Linked DNA regions of Homo sapiens. The protein of the gene in region 1 interacts with the protein of each later gene in a pairwise test. Each region holds a gene or a part of one and is shown on either strand. Other genes may lie near its edges.

What was found.
Region 2: the proteins of PHETA1 (region 1) and OCRL interact in binary tests that used the Homo sapiens proteins (3 or more experiments, as listed by UniProt).

Annotation. Positions count from the first base shown.
Region 1 is NC_000012.12:111,361,777-111,378,886, reverse strand, and holds the start of PHETA1 (sesquipedalian-1), read left to right. Parts: upstream 1-9,791; 5' UTR 9,792-9,975; intron 9,976-10,164; exon of another isoform or gene 10,165-10,558; intron 10,559-12,629; 5' UTR 12,630-12,774; intron 12,775-13,235; exon of another isoform or gene 13,236-13,320; coding exon of another isoform or gene 13,321-13,323; intron 13,324-13,330; exon of another isoform or gene 13,331-13,492; intron 13,493-15,423; coding exon of another isoform or gene 15,424-15,459; coding exon 15,460-16,209; 3' UTR 16,210-17,110. UniProt on the Homo sapiens protein: Plays a role in endocytic trafficking. Required for receptor recycling from endosomes, both to the trans-Golgi network and the plasma membrane.
Region 2 is NC_000023.11:129,541,743-129,552,802, forward strand, and holds part of OCRL (inositol polyphosphate 5-phosphatase OCRL), read left to right. Parts: intron 1-3,215; coding exon 3,216-3,295; intron 3,296-6,820; coding exon 6,821-6,859; intron 6,860-11,060. UniProt on the Homo sapiens protein: Catalyzes the hydrolysis of the 5-position phosphate of phosphatidylinositol 4,5-bisphosphate (PtdIns(4,5)P2) and phosphatidylinositol-3,4,5-bisphosphate (PtdIns(3,4,5)P3), with the greatest catalytic activity towards PtdIns(4,5)P2.

The DNA.
Region 1 (17,110 bases):
TTTGAGACAGAGTCTCCCTTTGTCACCCAGTCTTGAGTGCAGTGGCACAATCTTGGCTCACTGCAACCTCCACCTCCTGGGTTCAAGCGATTCTCCTGCCTCAGCCTCCCGAGTAGCTGGGACTACAGGCACACGCCACAACACCCAACTAATTTTTGTATTTTTAGCAGAGGCGAGGTTTCACCATGTTGGCCAGGCTGGTCTCAATCTCCTGACCTCAGGTGATCCGCCCGCCTCGGCCTCCCAAAGTGCTGGGATTATAGGCATGAGCCATTGTGGCTGGCTCTCCTGGTTATTTAATGTCAATGGAAACTTTATTTCTTTTCATGGCTAAGCACTATTCCATCAAATGGATGTACCACAATTTGTTTCTCCATATATCTGTGGATGAATATTTGAGTTGTTGCTAGTTTCTGGTGTTTCTGAATAAAGTTGCTATGAATAGTCACATACAGGTCTTTGTGTGGTCATGTTTTCATTTCTCTTTGGTAAATACTTTGGAGTGGGATTACTGGGTTGTACATGGCGAGTTTCTGTTCTTTTTTTTTTTTTTCTTTTTTTTTTTTTTTTTGAGACAGACTCTTGCTCTGTCACCCAGGCTGGAGTGCAGTGGTGCAATCTTGGCTCACTGCAACCTCTGCCTCCCAGGTTCAAACAAGCCTCAGGCTCCGGAGTAGCTGGGACAACAGGCGCATGCCACCACGCCTGCCTAATTTTTGTATTTTTAGTAGAGATGGGGTTTCGCCGTATTGGTCAGGCTGGTCTTGATCCTGACCTCAGGCGATCCACTCGTCTTGGCCTCCCAAACTGCTGGGATTACAGGCGTGAGCTACTGCACCCGGCCTTTTTATTTTTTTTTTGAGACAGAGTCTTGCTCTGTCACCCAGGCTGGAGTGCAGTGGTGCGATCTCGGCTCACTGCAACCTCCACCTCCAAGGTTCAAACGATTCTCCTGCCTCAGCCTCCCAAGTAGCTGGGATTACAGGCGCCCACCATCACGCCCAGCAAACTTTTGTATTTTTAGTAGAGATGGGGTTTCACCATGTTGACCACGCTGGTTTCAAACTCCTGACCTCAGGTGAATCCGCCCACCTCAGCCTCCCACAGTGCTGGGATTACAGGCATGAGCCACCTTGCCTGGCAGAGTTTCTGTTCATTTTTACAAGAAATTGCCAATTTGTTTTCCAGAGTGGCTATACCATTCTACCTTCCCATCAGCAGTATGGAAGTTCAGTTGTTCCACATCCTCACCAGCACTTGGTGTTGTCAGTCTTTTTAATTTTGGCCTTTCTAATTGGAACATGGTATTAGCTCATTTGGTTTCAATTTGCATTTCTCTGATGTGTAATGACACTGGGCATCTTTTCATTGCTTATTAGCCAGTATATCATATTATAGCTTTTTTTTTTTTGAGACAGAGTCTCACTCTGTGTCGCCCAGGCTGGAGTGCAGTGGCACAATCTTGGCTCACTGCAAGCTCTGCCTCCTGGGTTCACGCCATTCTCCTGCCTCAGCCTCCCAAGTAGCTGGGACTACAGGCGCACGCCACCATGCCCAGCTAATTTTTTGTATTTTTAGTAGAGACGGGTTTTCACCAGGTTAGCCAGGATATTCTCAATCTCCTGACCTTGTGATCCACCCACGTCGGCCTCCCAAAGTGCTGGGATTACAGGCGTGAGCCACCACACCTGGCCCATATTACAGCTTTTTATAAAATATCTGTTAACATCTTTTGCCTGGGCCAGGCATGGTGGCTCATGCCTGTAATCCCAGCACTTCAGGAGGCCCAGGTGGGAGGATTGCTTGAGTGTAGGAGTTCGAGACCAGCCTGGGCAACATGGTGAAACTCCATCTCTACCAAAAATACAAAAAAAAAAAAAAAAAAAAAAAAATTAGCCAGGCATGGTGGCGCGCGCCTGTAGTCCCAGCTACTTGGGAGGCTGAGATGGGAGGATGGTTTGAGCCTGGGAAGCAGAGGTTGTCGTGAGCGGAGATCATGCCATTGAACTGTAGCCTGGGCAACAGGACCAAACCCTGTCTCAAACACACACACACACACATCTTTTGCCTGTCTTTAGATTGGGTTGCTTATCTTATTATTGGGTTGTAAGACTTCATTATATAGATCTGGCATTCAGATTCTGTCAGATATATATATCAAGAAAATTTTTTTTCTCAGTTAGTTGGTGGCTTATCTTTTTGTTTCTCTGATGGTATCTTTCCTTTCCTTTCCTTTTCCTTTTCCTTTCCCTTTTCCTTCCTCCCTCCGTCCCTCCCTCCCTCCCTCTCTCTCTCTTTTTAAACAGGTTTTAAAAACAACCTTTATCTTTTTTAAAGTCAATATGGGCCGGGTGCAGTGGCTCACACCTATAACCCCAGCACTTTGGGAGGGTGAGGCCGGCAGATCACCTGAGGTCAGGAGTTCGAGACCAGCATGGCCAACATGGCAAAACTCTGTCTCTACTAAAAACACAAAAATTAGCCAGGCATGGTGGCACACACCTGTAGTCCCAGCTACTTGGGAGGCTGAGGCAGAAGAAATGCTTGAACCCAGGAGATGGAGGTTGCAGTGAGCTGAGATTGCACTCCGGCCTGGACAACAGGGCAAAATCCTGTCTCAAAAAAACAAAACAAAAAAAACCCCCCAACCTACTGAAGTCCAATTTTTATTTTTTTCTAGTTTATGCTCTTTGAGTCTTAAGAAATCTTTATCCTAAAGTTGTAAAGATTTTCTATTTTATTATTTTTAGTTCCTTTTTTTTTTTTTTTGAGGTAGAGTCTTGCCCTGTGGCCCAGGCTGGAGTGCAATGGCGCGATCTTGGCTTGGTGCAACCTCCACCTCCCGGGTACAAGTGATTCTCCTGCCTCAGCCTCCCGAGTAGCTGGGATTACAGGCATGTGCCACCATGCCTGGCTAATTTTGTGTATTTTTTTTTTTTTTTTGAGACAGAGTCTCGCTCTGTCGTCCAGGCTGGAGTGCAGTGGTGCAATCTCAGCTACTGCAACCTCCACCTCCAGGGTTCAAGCAATTCTCCTGCCTCAGCCTCCCAAGTAGCTGGGACTACAGGCACACGCCACCACACCCGGCTAATTATTTTTATTTTTAATAGAGCCAGGGTTTCACCATATTGGTAAGGCTGGTCTCGAACTCCTGACCTCAGGTGATCCACCCGCCTCGGCCTCCCAAAGTGCTGGGATTACAGGCATGAGCCACCATGCCCGGCCCAATTTTTTGTATCTTTAGTAGAGATGAGGTTTCACCTTGTTGGCCAGGCTGGTCTCAAACTCCTGACCTCATGATCTGCCCGCCTCGGCCTCCCAAAATGCTGGGATTGCAGGTGTGAGCCATCGTGCCCGACCTTATTTACTTATTTTTTGGAGACAGGGTCTCACTCTGTCGTTCAGGCTGGGGTGCAGTGGCGTGATCCTAGTTCACTGCGGCCTTGACCTCCTGGGCTCAAGCGATCCTCCTGCCTCAGGTTCCTGAGTAGCTGGGACTACAGGCATGCGCCACCACACCCAGCTAATTAAAAAACAATTTTTTAAGAGATGGGTTCTTACTATTTTGCCCAGGCTGGTCACTAACTCAGGCGATCCTCGCACTTTGTTTGGCCTCCCAAAGTGCTGAGATTACAGGCATGAGCCATTGTGCCTGGCAGCCCCTATTTTCTTCTAGAGATTTTAGAGTTTAGCTTTTATGTGCAAGAGTTTGATGTATTTTGAGTTAATTTTTATGTATGGCATGAGGTAAGTATCAAGGCTGTTTTTTTCTATATGAATATCCAGTTATTCCAGCTCAATTTGATGAAAAGACTAATCTGGATTTTTCCCTTCGAATCTCCATTTTTCCCATTACTTAGGTCCAAAAGTTGAGAGTCCTTTTTATTTTTATTTTTTATTTTTTGTAGAGACGAGGTCTCCACCCACCTTGGCCTCCCAAAGTTCTGGGATTGCTGGTGTGAGCCACTGTGTCCAGCCCTGGGTAATATTTTTATCATTTGTAGAGATGGGGTCTCCCTGTGTTGCCCAAGCTGGTCTCAAACTCCCAGGCTCAAGTGATCCTCCTGCCTCGGCTTCCCAAAGTGCGGGGATTACAGATGTAAGCCAGCATACCTGGCCCTGGAGTTCTTTTTCTTCTTTTCTTTTTTTTTGTTTTTTGAGACAGAGTTTTGCTCTGTCGCCCGGGCTGGAGTGCAGTGGGGTGACCTCAGCTCACTGCATCCTCTGCCTCCCGGGTTTAAGCAATTCTCTGCCTCAGTCTCTCGAGTAGCTGGGATTACAGGCACCCACTACCACGCCTGGCTAATTTTTTTTGTATTTTTAGTAGAGACGGGGTTTCACCATCTTGGCCAGGCTGATCTCAAACTCCTGACCTCGTGATCCACCCACCTTGGCCTCCCAAAGTACTGGGATTACAGGCGTGAACCACTGTGCCCGGCCCCTGGAGTTATTCTTAACTCCTTTTCTTCCTTCCTCTCTCTCTGTCTCTCTCTCATTCCCCACATGCAACCTATCATCAAATTTTACATATATCTTAAATATATATTAATGTGGTTTGGCTGTGTCCCCACTGAAATCTCAACTTGAATTGTATCTCCCAGAATTCCCATGTGTTGTGGGAGGGACCCTGGGGGAGGTCATCGAATCATGGGGGCTGGTCTTTCCCGTGTAATTCTCATGAGAGTGAATAAGTTTCATGAGATCTGATGGGTTTATCAGGGGTTTCTGCTTTTGCTTCTTCCTCATTTTCTCCTGCCGCCACCATGTAGGAAGTGCCTTTCACCTCCCGCCATGACTCTGAGGCCTCCGCAGCCACGTGGAACTGTAAATCCAATTAAACCTCTTTTTGGCCGGGCGCAGTGGCTCACGCCTGTAATCCCAGCACTTTGGGAGGCTGAGGAGGGCAGATCAAGAGGTCAGGAGTTCGACACTTGGACACAGGATGGGGAACATCACACACCGGGGCCTGTCGTGGGGTGGGGGGAGGGGGGAGGGATAGCATTAGGAGATGTACCTAATGTAAATGACGAGTTAATGGGTGCAGCACACCAACATGGCACATGTATACATATGTAACGAACCTGCACGTTGTGCACATGTACTGTAGAACTTAAAGTATTTAAAAAAAAAAAGAGGTCAGGAGTTCGAGACCAGCCTGGCCAACATGGTGAAACTCCACCTCTACTAAAAATACAAAAAATTAGCCAGGCGTGGTGGCAGCTGTAATCCCAGCTACTCAGGGGGCTGAGGCAGGAAAATTGCTTGAACCCAGGAGGCGGAGGTTGCAGTGAGCTGAGACTGCACCACTGCACTCCAGCCTGGGTGACAGAGTAAGACTCCATCTCAAACAAAAACAAAAAAACCCAAAAAATCTCTTTTTGTTCCCAGTTTTGGGTATGTCATTGTCAGCAGTGCAAAAATGGATGAATACAGTAAATTGGTACCAGGAGTGGAGTGTTGCTGAAAAGATAGGCAAAAATGTGGAAGTGACTTTGAAACTGTAACAGGCAGAGGTTGGAACAGTTTGGAGGGCTCAGAAGAAGACAGGAAAATGTGGGAATGTTTCAAGCTTCCTAGAGACTTGTTGAATGGCTTTGCCAAAATGCTGATAGTGATATGGACAATAAAATTCAGGCTGAGGTGGTCTCAGATGGAGATGTGGAACTTGTTGGGAACTGGAGCAGAGGTGACTCTTGTTATGTTTTAGCAAAGAGACTGGCGGCATTTTGCCCCTGCCCTAGAGATCTGTGGAACTTTGAACTTGAGAGAGATGATTTAGGGTATCTGGTAGAAGAAATTTCTAAGCAGCAAAGCATTCAAGAGGTAACTTGCAGGCTGGGAGCGGTGGCTCAAGCCTGTAATCTCAGCACTTTGGGAAGCCAAGGTGGGCAGATTACCTGAGGTCAGGAGTTCAAGACCAGCCTGACCAACATGGTGAAACCCTATCTCTACCAAAAATACAAAAAATTAGCCATGTGCAATGGCGTGCACCTGGTGCCAGCTACTCAGGAGGCTGAGACAGAAGAACCGCTTGAACCCAGGAGGCGGAGGTTGCAGTGAGCTGAGATCACACCACTGCACTCCAGCCTGGGCAACAGAGCAAGACTCTGTCTCAAAAAAAAAAAAAAAAAAAAAAAAAGAAAAGAAAAGAAAAAAATAAGAAGTAAATTGTAATAGAAAGAAAAGCCCATTTTCTGGGGAGAAATTCAAGCCGGCTGCAGAAATTTGCATTACGTAGCAAGGAGCCTAATGTTAATCCCCAAGACCATGGAGGAAATGTCTCCAGGCCATGTCAGAGAACTTCCTGGCAGCCCCTTCCATCACAGGTCCAGAGGTCCAGGAGGAAAAAGTGGTTTTGTGGGCCAGGCCCTGGGTTCCTGTGCTGTGTGCATCCTAGGGAGTTGGTGTTCTGTGTCCCAGCTGCTCCAGCCATGGCTGAAAGGCACCAACACAGAGCTCAGGCTGTGGTTTCAGAGGGTGGAAGCCCCAAGCCTTGGCAGCTTCCATGTGGTGTTGAGCCTGTGGGTGCACAGAAGTCAAGAATTCAGGTTTGGGAACCTCTGCCTAGATTTCAGAAGATGTTTGGAAATGCCTGGATGCCCAGGCAAAAGTTTGCTGCAGGGGCAGGGCCCTCATGGAGAACCTCTGCTAGGGTGGTGCAGAAGGGAAATGTGGGGTTCAGAGCCCCCACACAGAGTCCCTACTGGGGTACTGCCTAGTGGAGCTGTGAGAAGAGGGCCACCATCCTCCAGACTCTGAAATGGTAGATCCACTGACAGCTTGCACTGTGTGCCTGGAAAAGCCACAGATACTCACCACCAGCCCGTGAAAGCAGCCAGGAGGAAGCCTGTACCCTGCAAAGCCACAGGAGTGGAGCTGCCCAAGATCATGGGAACCCATCTCTTGCATCAGCGTGACCTGGATGTGAGACCCGGAGTCAAAGGAGATCATTTTGGAGCTTTAAAATTTGACTGCCCCACTGGATTTCAGACTTGCATGGGCCCTGTAACCCCTTTGTTTTGGCCAATTTCCCCCATTTGGAACGGCTGTATTTACCCAATACCTGCATCCCCACTGTATCTAGGAAGTAACTAGCTTGCTTTTGATTTTACAGGCTCATAGGCAGAAGGGACTTGCCTTGTCTCAGACAAGACTTTGGACTGTGGAATTTTGGGTTAATTCTGAAATTAGCTAAGACTTTGGGGGACTGTTGGGAAGGCATGATTGGTTTTGAAATGTGAGGACGTGAGATTTGGAGGGGCCGGGGCAAAATGATATGGTTTGGCTGTGTCCCCACCAAAATCTGAACTTGATTTGTATCTCCCAGAATTCCCACGTGTTGTGAGTGGGACCCAAGAGGAGGTCATTGAGTCATGGGGGCCAGTCTTTCCTACGCTATTCTTATAATAGTGAATAAGTCTCACGAGATCTGAAGGGTTTATCAGGGGTTTCCGCTTTTGTTTCTTCCTCACTTTCTCTTGCCACTGCCATGTAAGAAGTGTCTTTCACCTCCCGCCATGATTCCAAGGCCTCCTCAGCCATGTGGAACTGTAAGTCCAATTAAACCTCTTTTTGTTCTCAGTTTCGGGTATGTCTTTATCAGCAGTGTGAAAACGGACTAATACATATATCCATTAAATATATATCTATACTTAACCACTTCTCTCCACCTCCACTGCTCCACTCTAAGCCACCACCATCACTTGCTTGGACTACTGCAGTAGTGTTCTCCCTGATCGCCTGGCTTCTACTATCATTCCCTGCCCATAGCAGTCAGGGACCATGTTAAATCTAACACAGACCATGTCCCTCCTCTGCTCAAAACCCTCCCATGGCTCCTCATTCTTCTTAGAGTAAAAGCAAAATCTTTCCTCTGGTCCTTAAGCCCCTAGGTCACCTGGCTTTCTGGCTTTGCCAATAATCTCTGATCTATTGTGTTTTTTTTTTTGTTTTTGTTTTTTTTTTGTTTGACAGAGTCTTGCTCTGTCACCCAGGCTGGAGTGCAGTGGTGCAATCTCAGCTCATTGCAACCTCTGCCTCCTGGGTTCAAGTGATTCTCCTGTCTCAGCCTCCCAAGTAACTGGGATTACAGGTGTACACCACCATGCCTGGCTAATTTTTTTTTTTTTTTTTTTTTGTATTTTTAGTAGAGACCGGGTTTCACCATGTTGGCTAGGCTGGTCTCGAACTCCTGACCTCAAGTGATCTACCTGCCTCGGCCTCCCAAAGTGCTGGGATTATAGGCGTGAGCCACTGCGCCCAGCCAGCTGACCTATTTTCCTACTATTCTTCCCATTGCTCACTTGGCTCCACTGGTCTCCTCGTTGTTCTTCAAACATGCCCAGGATGGCCCCATTTCAGGGCTTTTGCACTTGCTGTTCCCTCTGCCTGGGACCTCCTTCTCCCAGATAACCACATGGCTCCCTCCCTCATTCCTCCAGGTCTGTCCTCAGAGAGGCCTTCCCTGACCACCTTGTCTAAAAGCTGCACTTCCAGCTTGGGCAAGATAGCAAGACCCCCCCGATCTCTACAAAAAATTAAAAAAAATTAGCCGGGTGTGGTGGTACACACCTGTAGTCCCAACTACTTGGGAGGCTGAGGTGGGAGGCTCGGTTGAACCCAGGAGTTCAGGTTACAATGAGCTGTGATTGTGCCACTGCACCCCAACCTGGGTGACAAAAAAACACAAAAAACAAAAAACAAAAACAAAAAAACTGCACTCCCAGGCTTTCTGCCCCATTGCCTTAGCGTACAGTCCTAGCATGAATCACTTCCAGAACTCATTTGTGTTGTCTTGATTCCTGGCTGCACCTGCTTACCTGGTTCAGGTACAGTGCCTGGCACACAGTAGGCGCTTAGTGAGAGGCTGTACAATGGAGAGCTGACCCTGGTCTGTCCTGTTCTTCCTGCTTTCAGGCCAGGACTTAATAGTGATTGGGAGGTGGCGGGTGGTGGAGAAGAGGCGGCAGGAACAGGAAGGAAGGGTTCAAGGAGGTGGGCAGGGCAAAAACAACAGCAATTCCTATTTCTTGAGAGCTTTCTGTTGTGCCGTGCACTTTACATATCATGATGGTCTTTATTTTCCGGATGAGGAAACGGAGGCTTAGAGAAGTGAAATGATTTCTCTAAGCTCACACAGTGTTCAGTGGCCTAGTGCGACTCGAACTCAAGTCTGCCTAATTCCAGAACTTCCTCTCTTCACCTGGAGCCAGGGGAAGCTTGCGAGGCGCCCTGTCCGTATGGAACAGTGCTGTACGCAAATGTCCTGGATTCAGCTGTTTTTTCTGCCACTCACACATTTTTCAGGAATTAGAGCTATTTTTCTAATTTAACTGGGCATTAAATTTGCTAAACCTGGCAACCCAGGTTTAGCAAATATTTTTATTATTTGTAGAGATGGTGGTCTCCCTCTGCTGCCCAGGCTGGTCTTGAACTACTAGGCTCAGGCAATCCTCCTGCCTCGTCCTGGGGGGAGTTCGGACTTAAGCCTAGGACTTCAGCGAATGGCCCGCCCAGGACCCCCAAATGCTTTTGCAGGCTAATCCACGACCTGGGCCAGTCCTTACCTTTGGAATCGCAATGAGCTTCCCGGGCTCCAATCCGCTTTTCTGGGCTAGGGAACTGGGGAGTCGCGAGCCAGGAGCGGACCCTTTAAGAGTGATTTCGAGGGCGGGCTCACGGGGGCGTGCCGGTTCGGGGCCTGCCAATCGGGAGGTGGGAAGAACGCGGGGGCGGGCCCGGCGCGAGCAGGCTGGGAAGGGTTAAAGGGGCGCGCCCGTGGGTCGCGGACTGTCCGGTTGCTCCCGCCTCCTTCCGTCGGATCCGCGCTCTCCCGCGGCTGCGCCGGCCCGGCCGCCCAGGAGACAAAGCGCTGCCGCCGCCGTCGCCGCCACCGGGCCAGTCCCGAACCATGGCCGGGCCACCCCGCAACCTCGCGCCTCCCGTCCCGTCGCCGCCCTAGGCCTGCGCTGCGAGGTAAGGCGGGCCTGGCGGGGGGACATGCACGAGGACATGGGACCCGGGTCGGGCCGCCCTGGGCCTCGGGGTCCCCCGGCCACCTGGAGAGCGCGTTGCGGGGATCTTCCCCGCTGGGACTCCGCACCAGTGGTGACTTCTCCAGCTGCCGAGGCGAACTTGGCCAATGACCACCCTCCCCTCTCTCAGCCCATAGGGACGTCTGCCGCTGGTGGGGACTGCGGATAAGCCCCCCATTCTGCCGCTGATCACCCATCTGGGGCTCTGGCTGTCCTTTAAGGAACTTAAGAGAGCTCCCACGCACAACACACAAAGGGACAGAGAGCAGCCGGGAGCAGGGCCACACCTGGAGCAGCAGCCCCTGCCGTGGACAAGGGGGCTGCCTGTGTCTGGACGGCGGTGCTGGCGTGTCTCTGGGGTCCCTGCTGGGGCGGTGACGGCCAGGCTGCTCTTTAGTGTTCTTGGCACACATGTTTTTCAGCCTGTGCCTGCCACACCCTCTTCCCCACGCCCGCTGCTGGGGGACACTGAGGGCAGCTGGATTCAACCCCAGGACCTGCGGTACTGGCTTCTTTTCGTTGATGTGAGTGCCAAAATGCCATGCTTCAGTCTCCCAGGAGACCTGGGTTCCGGGGCCAGCTGTGCCCCTGGAGATCTTGGATGAATTATTTGCCTTTTTGACAGCTCTTTCCCTGAAAGCTCACTACCCACCAAGTATTTTGCAAAATGACTCTTCAGGAGTCAATTCACTCAGCCCTTAGAGGGATGGAAGTTAACGTCACCATTTTGCAGATGAGGCTGAGAAAAAACTCCGACTCACAGCAGCTAATATTTGCAATCCATTTCCCATAGTTTGCCAGTGGGTTTTCCTTCTTTTAGCTCATGAACCCTCGCCACACAGCCCAATTTAACAGATGAGGACACTGAGACTTGGAAAGGTGAAACGACTTGTCCAAGGTCCTCCAGCCTGGACCTGCGGAGGCAGGAACTTTGCCTTGGGAGCAGAGCTGGGCCAGGCTCCCTCCAGCTTCCTGTCTGGCCATGGGCTGTTGAATCAGCAGCAGTGCCCACAGTGGACTCTGAACTTCTTGGAAAACAGTGTGGGGAGATAAGGCAGGGGCCAGGCCTTCGCTCCAGGCAAGGCTGGCGCCTGTGCCCCTGCAGCTTCCTGTCTTCCCAGTTCTGGTGGAGGCAGGGGTCATGGGCAGAGCTGGGTCCTGTGCCTGCTGGTGACCTTGAACCAGTTTGGCCTCTATCTAGGCAGTCGGGGGAGGAGGGTTGCTGAGCAGGAGGGAAGTTGCTATTCCTTTGGCCTTGATGGGGTGGAGAGACCCCAAGATCAGCCCCTTTATTTGGGTGGCTTGCCTGGAGCATGTGATTCTGGGCACAGTTGTATGCCTCTAGCCAACTTATTGAATCTCCCTGTGTCCATTTCCACATCTGTGAATGTGGGGTGAGATCCCTTGTCTTGGGGCTGTTGAAAGGTTTCAGAAGATACTGCAGAATGAATCAAACAGCTGTGTGAGTACCTACTGCATGCCAGGCACTAGAATTCAGACCACAAACGCCCCTGCAGGCAGAAATGACCCAGGTATTAATTTCAGGTGGAGGCACAGGAGAGGGACTGGGGGGCCTCTTGTGCATAGGGTGGCCAGGGACCACCTCTCTGAGGAGGTGACAGCTAGGCTGAGACCAAAGGATGGGGAGCTGGCCTTGTGAAGACCTGCAGGCAGACAGCCGGGACCAAGTCTTGGAGGTGGGGATGTGTCTGGTGTATTTGAGGAACAGAAAGGAGGCCAGGATGGCTGGAGCTGAGTGAACAAGGGGGAAAGAGGTAGGGAAAGGGAACTTGGAAGCCAAGGGAGGCTTGGATTTTTTTTTTTTTTTTTTTGAGACAGAATCTCACTATGTCACCCCCCAAGTTCAAGGGGTCCTTCCATGTTAGCCTCCCAGATAGCTAGGACTAGAGGCTTGTATCACCATGCCCAGCTATTTTTTTTTCTATTTTTTATAGAGATAGGGTCTTGCTATGTTGTCCAGGCTGGTCTCTAACTCAAGCAATCCTACCCCCTCAGCCTCCCAAAGTGCCAGCATTACAGGTGTGAGCCACCGCACCCTGCCTAAGGATTTAATTTTATGCTGAGAGAAGTAGGGAGCCATGGGAGGGTTTAGAGCAGAGGAGGAGTGTGATTGGACTTAATTTTCACAGGATCCATCTGTGGGAAGTGGATTTCAGTGTGGCTCGGAGAAGAGCTTAGGAAGGAGGCTTGGATCTTACCTTGAGGAACATGGACAGGGAGGGGCAAGGAGACTTATGAGGAGGCTACAGCAGCCATCCCAGTGAATGGTGATGGGGCCTAGAATGGGGAGGTGGAGTGGACAGATTAGGCAACTGATTTGGAAGACGCTGGAGAGGGGGATCAACTGGACTTGATGTGCGATCAGATGCGGGGGTGAGAGGGAAACCAAGGGCCATTTGCTGAGATCGGAAGCACAACACAGGGATGTTTGGGGAAAAGCCAAGAAAAATGTGAACTGCAACCGCGCTCAGCAGGCACTGTGTGCCTGGCCCCATGCTCCGCAAAGTCCATATAGTCACTGTATCATTGTCACAACAGCCCTGACTTAGGCACTGTTACGATCCCATTTTACAGATGCAGAAACAGAGGCCCAGAGAGATGAATAGCCTGCCTGGGGTCCCCCAGCCCAGATGCTGCAGAGCTGACATTTGAATCCAGAGAAGAGCGAGCTGAGGCTGGAGCTGAGCAGAGGGCAGGGAGGCAAGTGGTGGCCTGAGAGGTAGGAGCGGAACTGGGCAAGCAGGGCGGGAGGGTCCTGTGAGAACCGGGGCCAGCATCCACATGGGAGTTGATGGGTGGTGGTGTGGGGAATGCGTGAATCCCTGCGGCTTAGAGAGGGACAGCTGTAGCTGAGAGGCAGGGTGGGGATTCAACACCTGGAGACTTTGGGGGCTCTGGCCTTGGCCTCCCACTAGGTCAGGACAAACTGACCTCAGTTTCTTTTTTTATTTTAAGTTCCATGATACATGTGCAGAACATGCAGGCTTGTCACATAGGTATACGTGTGCCATGGTGGCTTGCTGCACCATTGACCCGTTCTCTAAGTTCCCTCCCCTCACCCCCGATCCCCCAACAGGCCCCGATATGTGTTCTGCCCCTCCCTGTGTCCATGTGTCTCATTGTTCAACTCCCACTTATGAGTAAGAACATGCGGTATTTGGTTTTCTGTTCCTGTGTTAGTTTGCTGAGGATGATGGCTTCCAGCTCCATCTATTTCCCCGCAAAGGACATGATCTCATTCCTTTTTATGGCTGGATAGTTTTCCATGGTGTGTATGTACCACATTTCCTTTATTCAGTCTATCATTGATGGGCATTTGGGTTGGTTGATCTCAGTTTCTAAGTCACAACTCATGTTCCGTCTTCTAGGAAGCCTTCCCTGACTGCCTATGTGGCTGACAGGAGGTGGCAAGGACAACCCCCTCCACCCTAGGACAGGTAGTCTGGCAGGGCCTCACTGCGGTCACCTGCTCCCAGGAGAGCCACCACCCTGACCTCATTCCACCAGGCTCTGAGAAAGACACCACCCAGGCAGGGGAATGAACACTGAGTGCCTACTGCGTACCAGGACTTTATATCCTTTGCTTCTTGAAAAATGTAGCTACCATCCTATGCAGGCTGAGGCTCTGCAGTGGGAGATAAGGCAGGCTCTCAAAATGGCCATGGAAAACCCCAAGGGAAGGTGGCCAGGCCAGGGACGCAGATGCCACCTCCCGACAAGTCCTTCCTGGCCAGCGTTGCCCCATCATATACTCCTTGGGGGAAGGTGGATGGGGTCACTGTGGCCGATGGCATGGAGTTAGAGTCCTCTATGCTAAATGGCACGGGTCGACCCCCTGCCCCTCCTTCCTGTAAGTCAGCCTAGCCCTGGGCCTGCATCTTTCCCCAAATTCTTTCTTTTTTTTTGAGACGGAGTCTGGCTCTGTCCCCAGGCTGGAGTGTAGTAGTGCAATCTCGGCTGACTGCAACTTCTGTCTCCTGGGTTCAAGCACTTCTCCTGCCTCAGCCTCCCAAGTACCTGGGATTATAGGCACCCCCCACCATGCCTGGCTATTTTTTTTTTTTTTTTGAGATGGAGTCTTGCTCTGTCGCCCAGGCTGGACTGCAATGGCGCAGTCTTGGCTCACTGCAACCTCCGCCTCTTGGGTTCAAGCGATTCTTCTGCCTCAGTCTCCCAAGTAGCTGGGATTATGGGCGTGCACCACCTCACCTGGCTGTTTTTTAGTAGAGATGGGGTTTTGCCATGTTGGCCAGGCTGGTCTCGAACTCCTGACCTCAGGTGAGAAGGATTGGCCTTGGCCTTCCAAAGTGCTGGGATTACAGGCGTGAGCCACTGTGCCCAGCCCCTGTCTTACTATTTTCCATAGAACATGAGACTACCTGGCAGACGTCTTATCTGTTTGTTAACTGTCTGCTCCCTTTCACTTGCCAGTGGCATTTCAACACCACGAGGGCAGGGACCGTGTCCATCTTTTTTTTTTTTTTTGAGACAGAGTGTCACATTATTGCCCGGGCTGGAGTGCAATGGCATAATCTCGGCTCACTGCAACCTCCGCCTCCTGGGTTTAGGTGATTCTCCTGCCTCAGCCTCCCGAGTAGCTGGGATTACAGGCGCCCGCCACCACGCCTGGCTTATTTTTTGTATTTTTAGTAGAGAAGGGGTTTCACTGTGTTGGCCAGGCTGGACGACCCTGTCCATCTTGTTATTGCTATATCCCTAGGCCTGGAACAATGCCTGGCACCCAGTAGATGCTTAATAAACATTTTATGAATGAAATCAATCTCTACAACTCTCCAAAGTTGGTTCTGCTCATCCATTTCATGGATGAACAAACCAAAGTCGAACCACAAAGTCAGGGCTGGGACCTGGCAGGGACTGCAGAAGGCCAGCTGGTCTTGTTCTTGGGATGATGGAAACAGCAGCGCCTGAAATGAGGCCTGGGTTTGGATTTCAGCCCTGCCCAACCTGCTTTGTGACACCAGGGAAGCAGTTAACCTCTCTGTGCCTCTGTTTCCTCATCTGTTGCACTGGTGCCAGGCCAGTCCCTGTGACCTAAGGTCTATTGTGAGATAAAGTGAGTTCATTCCTCTGAAATGTCTGGCATGCAGCAGGAACTCACAACATTATTTCAGGGATACAGGAGGGTAGGAGGTTATGAGGCTGTCTGGGGAGGCCCGTGAGACCCAGGTTCCAGTCCTGTCTCTGCTTCTTAGGAGTTGTGGGCGCATAGGCCAGCTGCTTCCACCCTATGAGCGTCAGTTTCCTCATCTGTGAAACGGGGATGTAGAGTGGCTGCAAGGTCCCCTTGGGGCACTGGGTGACCTAGCGTCAGTGGCCTTGTGCATAACAGCCCTTCTATGGGGTCCAGGCCCCAGGCTCCCCTCCAGGCCCCGCGATTGCCACCATGAAGCTGAACGAGCGCAGCCTGGCCTTCTACGCCACCTGTGACGCCCCGGTGGACAATGCAGGCTTCCTGTACAAGAAGGGTGGGCGGCACGCGGCCTACCACCGGCGCTGGTTCGTGCTGCGCGGGAACATGCTCTTCTACTTCGAGGACGCTGCCAGCCGTGAGCCCGTGGGCGTCATCATCCTGGAGGGCTGCACTGTGGAGCTGGTGGAGGCCGCCGAGGAGTTCGCCTTCGCTGTGCGCTTTGCGGGGACCCGGGCGCGCACCTACGTGCTGGCCGCTGAGAGTCAGGATGCCATGGAGGGCTGGGTCAAGGCCCTGTCGCGTGCCAGCTTCGACTACCTGCGGCTGGTGGTGCGCGAGCTGGAGCAGCAGCTGGCGGCTGTACGTGGCGGGGGTGGCATGGCCCTGCCCCAGCCCCAGCCCCAGTCCCTGCCCTTGCCCCCGTCCCTGCCCTCTGCCCTGGCCCCAGTCCCATCCCTGCCTTCTGCCCCAGCCCCGGTCCCAGCCCTGCCCCTGCCCCGCCGGCCCAGTGCCCTCCCGCCCAAGGAGAATGGCTGCGCTGTCTGGAGCACTGAGGCCACCTTCAGGCCTGGACCCGAGCCCCCTCCACCACCGCCTCGCCGCCGGGCCTCGGCACCCCACGGGCCCCTGGACATGGCCCCCTTCGCCCGGCTGCACGAGTGCTATGGCCAGGAGATCCGGGCCCTGCGTGGCCAGTGGCTCAGCAGCCGGGTCCAGCCCTGAGGCCACCAGGGCGCCTGTTTTAGGGGGACACAAGCTCTATGCCCTCTGGGACAGGCCGGGTCCTGGAGAGACTGGGGGAGCAGATCCTGAGGGAAATCATGGGCAAGGCTGGCCCCCAGGCCCTGAGTGGCCTGGTTTTGGGGGATGCAGGCTCTGAGAAGGTGCTGGATTCTGAGTGGGCCTTTAGGACCATGTGACCCAGAAGGCCTACCCTTGAGGGGAACGTCACGTGCAACACTAAGGAGAATCCAGGGCCTGAGGGGGAGGTTTCCTGAGAACTCCGGCCCCAGGCTGGCCTGAGCTGCCGGGCAGAGGCCTGTGCTGGCAACAGGCATTGCCGGGCCTGCAGCTCAGAGGGTCACTGGGACTGAGGGCGATCTGTGGCCTGAAAAGCAAATGCACAGTTAGTGCAGCTCCTGACCAGGCCTTCAGGGTGGACAGAGGGAGGATCGGTCATGGCAGCCACACCTGGGCCTGGCCTTGCTCCGGGACCTGCCAGAGGAGCTGGCCTGGCTCTGTGCCTGCCTGCCTCCAGGAGCAGGACGGTGGCTGGGAGGGTAGTGACTGGGGACACAGGTGCAGGTGTTAGTGCAGGACCGGAAGGGTGAGGTGGCCTGGTCCTCGGGGCTCCTGGCCTGGGCTGGCTGAGGCAGGACTCTGCCAAAAGTCCCCTGCCAGGCCTCATGGTGGTGCTCCTGGTGGCAGTGGCTCTCTGGCCGCGGGCCCTGTCTGTGTCTCCGTGGTGGCTCTCACAGGGCTCTCCAGACACTCCTTGACTGCATCCTTCAGTCTTGGCCCCTAGGCCTGGGGCCCCTTGGGAGCTTGCCTGACCTCCCTTCCTGGGCTGGGTAGCCATGGCCCGAGGTGACCTTCTAGCAGGTTCCCCCAGGGAGGGGAGGCC
Region 2 (11,060 bases), on another chromosome or scaffold:
TGCCTAAAACCAATTTTCTCAGTCCCCACTTTTAGATCCTCTGTATCTATGCTGTCAGATTTACACGGAAGAAATTCCCACTGGCCCAACCTGCTCTTCTCTGAGACTATTGGTGCCACTCTAACTGGATGTCAGCTAATTCTGTGAAGTAGCTCTTTCATAGGTCCTGCTTAGTCAGCTCTACTGGGAAGTTCATCAAACCCGGATTTCATCAAACCCTGGAAGACTAGTTTAATGAAACTAAACTAAATTCAGAATTTAATAAAACAAAATTCAGCAGAAAAGTGGAACACCACTAACATTTCCAAAGGCTAGAGTGGGTTACAGAGAGGTGACCCTTGGGCAAACCAGTAAAACTTGTGTGCCTTGGTTTCCTCTAATGTAAAAACAAAATCATGAAGATTGAATAGAGTAGCTACATTGTTGAGATGACCACAGCCCAGAATCTAGTCCCTCGGATTAGTAGATTTGGAACTCTGTTGAGCTAATAAGGAAGTCGTGTGTTCCAATTCTGTGTAAGTTATGGGGGTATAGTTGGGGGTATATGTGGGGGTATGGGGCTGCTATATAACTAACATTAATATATAGGTAACACTATATAACAACTATATAACTAACAACTAATATAGTTGTTGCTATATTAGCAGTTTATATATAAACTATGTAAATAGTTTTAAATATATATAAACTATAGTTTTAAATACATATAAACTATAGTTTATATATAAACTAACATATAACTAACAACTAATATAGTTGTTGCTATATAACTAACATTCAATGGCTGCTTATGTGCCAGGTACTGTTCTAAGCCCTTTTCATTAGTTAGTTCATTTAATCCACATGTGAGGGTTACTATAAGATAGTAATATCATCATCCCCCTTTTATAGATACAGAAATTGAAGCACAGACAGGTTAAGTCACTTGTTTGCAATTAGGGAGTAGAATACCTGAGATCTGATCCTATGTAACATGTCTCAGAATTACACTGAGAAGTTTCTCTTGAAAGCATTTGCTGGAGACACCTAATACCATAATACCATCTGTAATCCTCATATTCTTGTCTCTCTGGTGTCTTTTCTGACTCGAGTGTCCAGAACTTTTTACTTTTGGCTTTTTTATCCTAGAACTTGAAGCCTGACTTAAATCTTTAGGTCTGTGGTTCCTACTGTCAACCATAGGAAATTTGCTTGACCAAAATTACAATTAAAAATCAGGGTTTTTTTGGAAACAGGGAATCAAACACTTAAGATTCATATTTTTCAAGGATAATAGATTATGACAAAACCTGTTTGACCTTTAACCTTCCTTGAACAAATCAAAGTGTTTCCTAGGGATAAGGCAGAGTTGGCATTCAGGATTTGTCACTCTTTTCTGTTTGACAACTACCAAATTCTGAATTCCATTGTTTTGCTGTATACCAATTATTTCTAATCTTTATATTCTGAAATGAATAATTACACTCAGAATTTTTATGCTTATTCTTAGCCCTACTCTTTTATTGTAATTTAGTGGGTAACACGTAGTAAATACTCAATAAATGTTGGTGAAATTCACTTAAATTCTCAGTTTATTTGTTTTGTAATAGTTTTTAACAGTACTGTCCAGATGAAGCTTTAATGCTAATGTTCAACACCATTTCTTGTTTATGTATTTTGAGATTTTAGTGGTTTGTGTTTATCTTCCTCAAAGTAAGCTCTTCCTCCTTAACCCTTGATTTCTCAGCCTTTTATCTGGTTTCTGGTTTCCATCTGGGTTTATAGGACTCTCCACTCAACTCATGAACTTTCCAGATGGAAAGGGGCCTGCCCCATATTCCTGTAATCACCTTAGAGTACAAACCCCTGCAAATTAGGCAAGAAGGATCACAGCAGAAAAACAGCATTAATACTTTTATTTCCCTTAGTTCTATCTAAGTAATTACTTATCCTATCCCAGGTTATCCTCTTCAAAGTTAACACATTTGAAAATGCAAAAAGCAAAAGCAACAAGCACCCCCAAAAGACAACAAAATAGAAATCAAACCCTTCAAAACAATGACATTTTAATGTCAGAAGTTGGACAGTTTCATTGAAAAATTCACCGCTGCTTATAGCTTAATTAAGCTAGTTAATTTATTCAGCCAGTATTTGTTGAGCATCTATTAGGCTGCAGACAAAACTGAATATGATCTGGTCTTTGCTTTCAAGGAGCTGAAATCAGTGAGGGGAAATAAATATAACCATAATGGAGTGTGTAAGTGTTCTATTAGAGGGGCAAACAAAGGCGATAAGGCTGCTGGTTCTGCTTGGGGGTACTGAGGACAGTTTCATGGAGGAGGTGATATTTGAGATGAAACTCGGAAAGAAACAGAGTGTTCCTGACAAAAAACTAAAAACAATACTTGAAGAGTGCTTGACTTTGAGAATGCTAGTTGACGTTCAGAATGGCTGTTTACCAGTAGGTCGTACCTTGATTCTGGACCACTAAGGATAAATAATAAATGAAAAATTAATATTTCAGGAGTACGTATGGATTTAGAAGTATGGATTTCATCTGGGGAGTCAGGTTTACTCATGTTTATGTAGAAATACCAGCGTAAACTTGGAAACCAGAGAAGAAACAAGGGATTTGAAGGCAATCCAGTTGTGATATCTGCCACCTTGTTGGTCACTGATATTTTGACCAATCCAGCTGGCTGAGCACCCCCTCTTACTCCTCCATGAACCTGAATGCTTGTTTGAAGAGACAGATCCATTCTTTGGTAAAAAGCCATGGGAATATAATTGGAAGGTTAATTTATGAATTTTCTAATTCATTGATTCCACACACACGAGCAACTCCTGTGTGCCAGGCTTTGTGCTAGGTACTAGAAATTCCGTGGTGTAAAGATAGCTGTGGTCCCTGCACTCATGGACTTCACATCTAGCTGTCAGTTCTTCACTCTGGTATGCATACTCTGAAGCTATATACTCTGTAATTCATGCTCTTAAGCTTGTACACTGTTTTTAGGATATATGGCCTAGAGAACAGTGTGGGTAATCAGATGTTCATCACCACTAGCATCCTTTTAGGCCTAGAGCAATATCTAGCTGTCATGATGCTCAGATCCAGGGAACTAGATGCAGCAAGTCTAGTAAATACAGACTAGATTTGTATAACAGGACAGTGAAGTATTTTTTTGCTAAATGAGTTTTTCAGTGGCTGTTCTTTGATGCGTTCTTCTGTTTCCTAGGTTAATAATCCAGTTGCATGAGAAGGAACAGCATGTTCAAGATATCATTCCTATAAATAGCCACTTCAGATGTGTTCAAGGTACTAGCTTTAATTCCTTAGCTAGTTTTATAATGTTTTTTCTCGGTCATTACTGCATTATGTAATACCATACATATTTAAATTTGTCAGTGCATGTAAAATGAAATGTATTACTCTTTGCATAAAAAGATAACATTGAGGAGATGATACTTTCTCTAAGAATGCTGAAGGGTTATATCGAAATATATTTGTATATGTGTGTCTATAGTCTCACCTGTTTCCTTGGCTTGGGTTAGAGATGTATGTAGATTGTTACCTGTGTAGGTAGTTTTTTATGCTGACTGACCTATATGTGGATTTAAATAACATTCTTGGGCTTAACGGACACAGTGCTCATAAGGTACCAAGGTCACTTGGATTCACACACATTCAGCACTTTCTCCACATGCTATTTGAAATTAAGACATTTGGCAACATGCCTTGCCAGACTGTAATATCTTACACTCAATTGTGCTGATTCTCAAACCTTGACATTGGTGAATCATAAGAAAATTGACTCTGGGGAGGAAATATTTGGCCTCCTGCCCTCAAATTTGGGGACGGAGCATAGAAAATCTGTTGTTTCATCTGCTACAATGAAACTTAAAAATTGGGAGGTTTGTGTAGGAGGTGTTGCTTCTGTCATCTCACATTGCTCTAGAAAGGAAATTGATACTAGAGAACAAATGCATTCTGTTTTCACTAGGACCAGTGGCTTTATCTAGCAGAAGCATTCTGTATCAATTGTAGCTTCTTGGAAAACTTGTTTTTTCAAGACAAGGTCATTTCCCAGGCTCAAGTGATCCTCCCACTTCAGCCTCCCAAGTAGCTGGGACTGCAGGTGCACCACCCCCCAGCTAATTTTTTTTGTAATTTTTGTAGTGACGGGGTTTCGCCATGTTGCCCAGGCTGGTCTCAAACTCCTGAGTTCAAGCAATCTGCCTGTCTCGGCCTCCAAAAGTGCTGGGATTACAGGTGTGAGCCAGCATGCCTGGCCTTTCTTGGAAAACTTAAATCTTACCTTGCATGGATTATTTCTTAAACTACATTGAACTTTTTTTTTAATCACTAAGTGACATGTACATAATGTAATACATTTGGAAAGAACAGAAAAGTGTAAAGAAAATAGGTCACTTAAATTCCCATCCTTTCAGAGATAAACACCTAGCATTTTCCTTTTTTCTACACATACATTGCAGGGTGAGTGATACTCATCTTATACAATTTTTTGTCTCTTCTACATGCTATTGTATTATGAGCACTTTTCCATGCCATTAATGGCTATATACCATACCAGTTTATGAATGGTCCATAATGTAATTATTCCCCTATGTTGACATTTGGGTTATTTTTCACTAGTATCAATAGTAATATGATGAACATCTCTGCACCTAAATATACCTGCACATCTCTTATTTCCTCAGGATGTATTCCTATAAGTGAAAATACTAAGCTAGTGGATATGACTTTTTAAGAATGCATGTGTTAAGAATTAAAAATAACTTCAATGAATAGTGTCCATATTTGTATGGAAGAATGAAGTGATAGCTATTTAGCCTGCCCTATGTGAGAGAGACATACTAAACAAGGTAGCCACGTTCCATAGTAAGTTGCTGTGGCCACCTCACTTTTCAAGGTGTAGGCCTTCACAGAGGGGAAGAGCCAAAGAACATGACTTTAAATTAATATCCTATTAGCTTTGTACCTTTTTACTCTACCTCTAGGATCTCTTTTACCCTGTTTCTCTTAGTATTTTTAATAAGAAATCAATTGCTGATTGTTAGATCGTAGTGCTGCTTCTTAGAACCTGGGAAAATATGTGCACACATGTAACGTAGTTCCCCATGACTAAAGGAAGACTTACTTTTGATTTTCATCTCCTTTCTATTTCCTGACCCCTGCATCTATTTTGTAAACTGTGGCCAGGCGCGATGGCTTGCACCTGTAATCCCAACATTTTGGGAAGCTGAGGCAGGAGGATTGCTTGAGCCCAGGGGTTCAAGACCAGCCTGGGCAACATTGCGAGACCCCATCTGTACAAAAATAAAATTAAAAAAACAACATTTGCCAGACGTGGTGGCAGATACATGTAGTCCCAGCTACTTGGGAGGCTGAAGCAGGAGGGTTGCTTGAGCCCAGCAGTTCGAGGCTGCAGTGAGCTGTGATTGTGCCACTGCATGCTAACCTGGGTGAGAGAGTGAGGCCATCTCTAAAGAAAAAGAAAACCGGCTGGGCGCGGTGGCTCAGGCCTGTAATCCCAGCACTTTGGGAGGCCAAGGTGGGCAGATCACAAGGTCAGGAGATTGAGACCATCCTGGCTAACACGATGAAACCCCGTCTCTACTAAAAATACAAAAAATTAGCCGGGCATGGTGGCGGGTGCCTGTAGTCCCAACTACTCGGGAGGCTGAGGCAGGAGAATGGTGTGAACCTGGGAGGCGGAGCTTGCAGTGAGCCGAGATCGTGCCACTGCACTCCAGCCTGGGTGACAGAGCAAGACTCCGTCTCAAAAAAAAAAAAAAAAAAAGAAAAAGAAAACCATCTGTAAACACTCAGGTTTTACAGAACTAAAAGTTAATGAAGAACAGTAGTAAGCATACAATATCTATGTCTTGATGCCCTAATTCCCCTTGTTTAATCATCCTAATAATAATATCGAGACTACTTTTTAGTGTTAAAGGAGTTAGTTCCTTGCCAGTTGCTTCTGTTGTACCTGAGTAATGGAGCCAAATAAACAATTCAGTCTTGGGAGGGAGGTGAAAAAGGTGAGACTACTCCATTTGACCAAGGTAGATCCAGGCTAATCCCAAGGAGTCAGTACCCAGAGTTCAATTAGCCAGGAGGGTCTGGCAGGTGCACTTGGTCAAATCCAGAGAAATCAGAGGGGAAGAGATAGGTTGGGTCTAGACACTTGTTGTAAAGGAAGAAGTCCAGGAGAACCATTGAGAGATAAGAGAAATCCAAACTTGCAGACTGCTTTGCACCCTGTTTGGTACGGAGGGCCTTGGGCCCACAGGTAGTAGTTGTAACCTGAAGGTATACTCTGCCCCCATGTGTGGGGCAGGGGCAGAGGTGATGAGATCACTGGGAAATTTTCAGAGAATAGATCTGAGTTAAGAAAGTAATTCACCTCTGGGCTTTCAGGGTCACTTCCTTTGCCTTCTGTTATCTAAAGAAGTATCTAAAGGACCCAGAGTTAAATCATTATGTTACAGTTAAGGGGAATTAAACTTGCTTTCGCTGAATTAACATGTTGTTATGTTCTGTACTATTAATTTCTCATTCGTTGATTTGCTTTGAGGAGTTCCATTTGGTTACTTCTTCAGTTCATTTTTATTTTAGTTGATTTGCTCATAGTCTTTAGAACCCAGTGCTATAAAAAATCCCTTTAAAAAATATTAAACGAAAAGGGATTTAAAAAAATATGTTCTAAGACCTAGGAGTAGTGACTGAGAGAAGCAGTTATTTAGTTAGGCATGTATTCTTTTGGTTGTAGTGAGTGGTTTTCTCTTCCCTAATCCTACTCTCTTTTTTTTCCCCTCTCAGAAGCAGAAGAAACTCTTTTGATTGACATAGCTTCTAACAGTGAGTATCTTTCTGAATGTGCTTGATTTTTACTCAACAAATATTTACTTGAACACTCACTACATTTAAGACACCTTTTGGGGCACATTTTTTATTTTACCATCTTTTCCTGTAGTCTCCTGTAGCAGCCATACAAATTAGCACTGTTTCCCAAAAACATGTAGGCTAAGCCTAAGAAAAAGCAGGTGGCTGGTAAGAATCTTTATAAAAATAAAAAATAATGATCTACCTTTCTAATGCTGAACTTCCGTGAGCTACCAGTATTGTTGCTGTCAGTTGAATCATTGCTGTAGAATTGATAATTGTAGGAAGGGCTGATGTTTAAAGCACATAAGGTTTATTGGTGGAGTTTTTTTGGTCATTTTTTAACTGCTATTACATTTTAAGTTTTTTCCCTACCCTCTTTTTAAATTTTGTGTGTTAAGTCATAATATTTTCCTTTATTTGTTGTATTTTTTTGGAAGGCTGAAGAGTCCCTTAAATTGCTTGTCCAGGCATTCCTTTAAAAAAAAAAGTTTAGTCTTTTATTTAAGCCCCATCCCCTCAAGGCATCTCTTTATTAGAGGGAACATGATCTTCTTTTCAATGTTTCCATTCTCTCATTTTTATCTGTTTGAAGCAAATCATCTTTGACTTTCTGTGCAAACTGTTCTTTGTTTATCATCTAATTGTACTATTTTATGGAGTGGAGAAAATGGGCACTCGATGCTACTGTGAGGTTGCTATGGAAAAGAGTATCTGACCACATGAATCTAAATCAAATGGGTTGCCTTATCTCTTGGTTGAGTCCTTGGATGAGTGGGAACTGGCACTGAGCTTGGGACTAGGGGTTTACATAACTTTGTTTAGACAGTCCCTGCCCTTGGCACTATTAATTTGTATTGAACACTTTAAGTAGGCTTTTTTTCTGGCTTGAGTTTTTTTTTTTTTCCCTTTGGTCGTGAATTTTAGAAGTCTTAAAGGCTGTGCCTGAAAGGCCAGGTAAACCCCAGCTGCAAGTATCCAAGAGAGAAAATAACTTAATGTCTATTTCTTATTGTGCTTAGAAAGGAGAAGGCAAAAACAACACTTAAAAAAGCAAAACTAGAACAAAAGCAATTCCATAACAACTGACACTGCTGCTGAAATAAGAGATGGAAATGTCCTGTATTTGATGTGGAGAAGTATTTGATTCAAAGCTGAAAAGTTAAACTGAGCTGTGCCTTTTCTCTTATAAGCACCTAATTTTCGGCATTAGTTTTGTTGTGGCCGCTTCTACATTAGCCATGTGTTGCTATGTCCAGAGTTCTAGTTACTGGCTCATAGGGGGAAAATAGGTAAGTGACCACTTGAATAAAATCCTTTGTTATTTCTACCCATTTAGTAGTATTTGCACTGAAACCATATTTTATCTTGATCCTTGGGCTTCATACATAAACCTTTATGGTACACGGTGTGTTGCAGGAAGGAGATCTTGGGTTTGTTAGGCAGGCCTGATTTTAATGTAAATATGCATTTTCCCATTGTCTGGATATTGGTGTTAAATGCTTTGTAAATAATTTTTTCTCACAGAAGTAATACATCTTCATTATATACAATTTACTAATTCAGAAAAGCTTAAAGTATCAAATTAAGATTATTTTCCTGCAATCTAGAGATCACCACTGTGGTTAACATTTTTATGTATTTCCTTCCAGTCTTTATATTTTTACATAATTGGAATCCTCATATGCAGTTTTTATCCTGCGTCTTCATTTAACATTATATTGTCCCATTTTCTTATGTCATTTACAATTACTTTATAATATGCTTTTTAAAAACCAAATATTTCACCATAGGTCTGTGCCAAATTTTATTAAATTAACTTCTTTATAAAATTAAGTCATTGTCAAGGAACATGATATATCTGTTTTTTTCAGGTCCTCTTTTATATCTTTCAATAAAATTTTATAGTTTCTTAATATATATAGTTTTTAGGTTAAGTATTTCGTGGTGGATTTTATTTGCTGCTATTGCGAGTGGAGGTTTTTTCTATGTCCTTCTAATTGTTTATTACTAGTATACAGAATAGCTGTTGAGTTGTGGATATTTATCTTTTATCCAGTTGCTTCATTGAAATTTATTTTTAATCTTTTTTGCTTTTCATTTTGTTTTTTCATTTTGGTAGCTAACCTTAATATCTATAAATAATAATTTTGTCTCTTTTCTAGTAGCTACTATCGTTGTACACTATACCAGTGAGAATTTTGGGACCAGTGGTAAATGATGATGTTTCTTGTTTGGCTCCTGATTTCAGTGAGAATGCCTCAAGTGGTATTTCACTGTTAATGACATTATTGCTTGTTGATTTGACAGGGTTTTTTTTTTTTTTAATTAAGAAACTGCATTTATTTCAAGTTTGTGTTTTTTAAAATTATGAATGTATACTGAATTTTAGCAAATGTCTTTTTGGTATTTATGGAGATGATTTTATTCTTCCTTATTTGACCAATTGGTACACTGTATTGTACTAATTTCCTAAAATTAAACTGTCCCTTGTTTATCCATTATTCAACAAATATTTGTTGAGTGCCTTCTATTTCTCAGGCACTTTTGTAAGTGCAGAATCAGTACAGAACGACAAAGATAAAGTTGCTGCTCCTACTTTGGTTCTTGCTTCTGTGCAATTCAGTACTAGTGTCACACAGATACCTATAATTCAATCATTCATTCTATAAAAATATGACTATTTTTTATGTGCCAGGAACTACACTAGGCTCTAGGGATATAGCAGAAAGCAGTACAGTCATGATACTTTAAGGATTTTAATATAGGAAACAGACTTTAAACTGATAAGATATAGATAATTGTAGTTTTTTTTGTTTGTTTTTTTGAGATGGAGTCTTGCTCTGTCATCCAGGCTGGAGTGCAGCGGTGCCATCTTGGCTCACTGCAAGCTCCGCCTTCCAGGTTCACACCATTCTCCTGTCTCAGCCTCCCGAGTAGCTGGGACTACAGGCACCTGCCACCATGCCTGGCTAATTTTTTGTGTTTTTAGTGAAGACAGGATTTCACCATGTTAGCCAGGATGGTCTCAATCTCTTGACCTCGTGATCTGCCCGCCTTGGCCTCCCAAAGTGCTGGGATTACAGGCGTGAGCCACCGTGCCTGGCCCAGATAATTGTAGTTTTAATAAATGCTCTTGAGGAAAAGTACTAAGAGTTTATGAGAAGAGTAAGTATATTAGGAGGGTGGTCAGGGAAGACCTCTTTGAAGAATTGACATTTAAATTGAGACCAGAGGGGCTAAGTAAGAGGCAGGTTAAGATGGGAGAGAGAAGAATTTACCAGGTAAAGGGAATCACAAGGCTCCAGGCTGGGAAGTAGCTTGACACTTTTCTTTGAAGTGATAGAAGACCAGGGTGCCTAAAACAGGTCTTGGGCACCAAGGTAAGAAAAACAGGCTAGGGGGCAGATCTGGCAGGATCTTGTAAGCCTTGTCTTAAATCTGAATTTTGAGATTTCAAAAATGAGAATCGTATGAAGGATTTTATGCTGGGGTGTCATCATTTGCATGGAAGCAGAGAGACCAGTTAGGAGGCTGTTTCCATAGTGTAAGCTAGAGAGTGTGGTGGCATTAGTAATGAAGAGAAGCAGTCAGACTTGATAGATGTTTTTGGAGGTAAAATCCATAGGAATTGTTTTGGGTGTAAGGGGTGAGAGGAAGTGTCAAGGATGAATCTCGGGTTTCTGACATGACTGTGGATGATGGTACCATTTGCAGAAATAAGAACACTGCACAAAGAATGAGTTTTCCTCAAGGGGGAAGGGTCATTAATTTAGTTTTAGTCATGTTTAGTTTGAGATTTTTTTTTTGTTTTTTGAGATGGAGCCTCGGTCTTATCGCCCAGGCTGGAGGGCAGTGGCGCGATCTCAGCTCACTGCAACCTCTGCCTCCCGGGTTGAAGCTATTCCCCTGCCTCAGCCTCCTGAGTAGCTGGGATTACAGGCACCCGCCACCACGCCCAGCTGATTTTTGTACTTTCAGTAGAGATGGGGTTTTGCCTTATTGGCCAGGCTGGTCTGGAACTCCTGACCTCAGGTGATCTGCCCACCTCGGCCTTCCAAAGTGCTGGGATTAACAGGCATGAGCCACCTCACCCGGCTGAGATTTTTTTTGAGACACCTGAGTGTAGATGATAAATTGGCAAGTGAATGTATGCATCTGAATCTCAGAAGAAAGT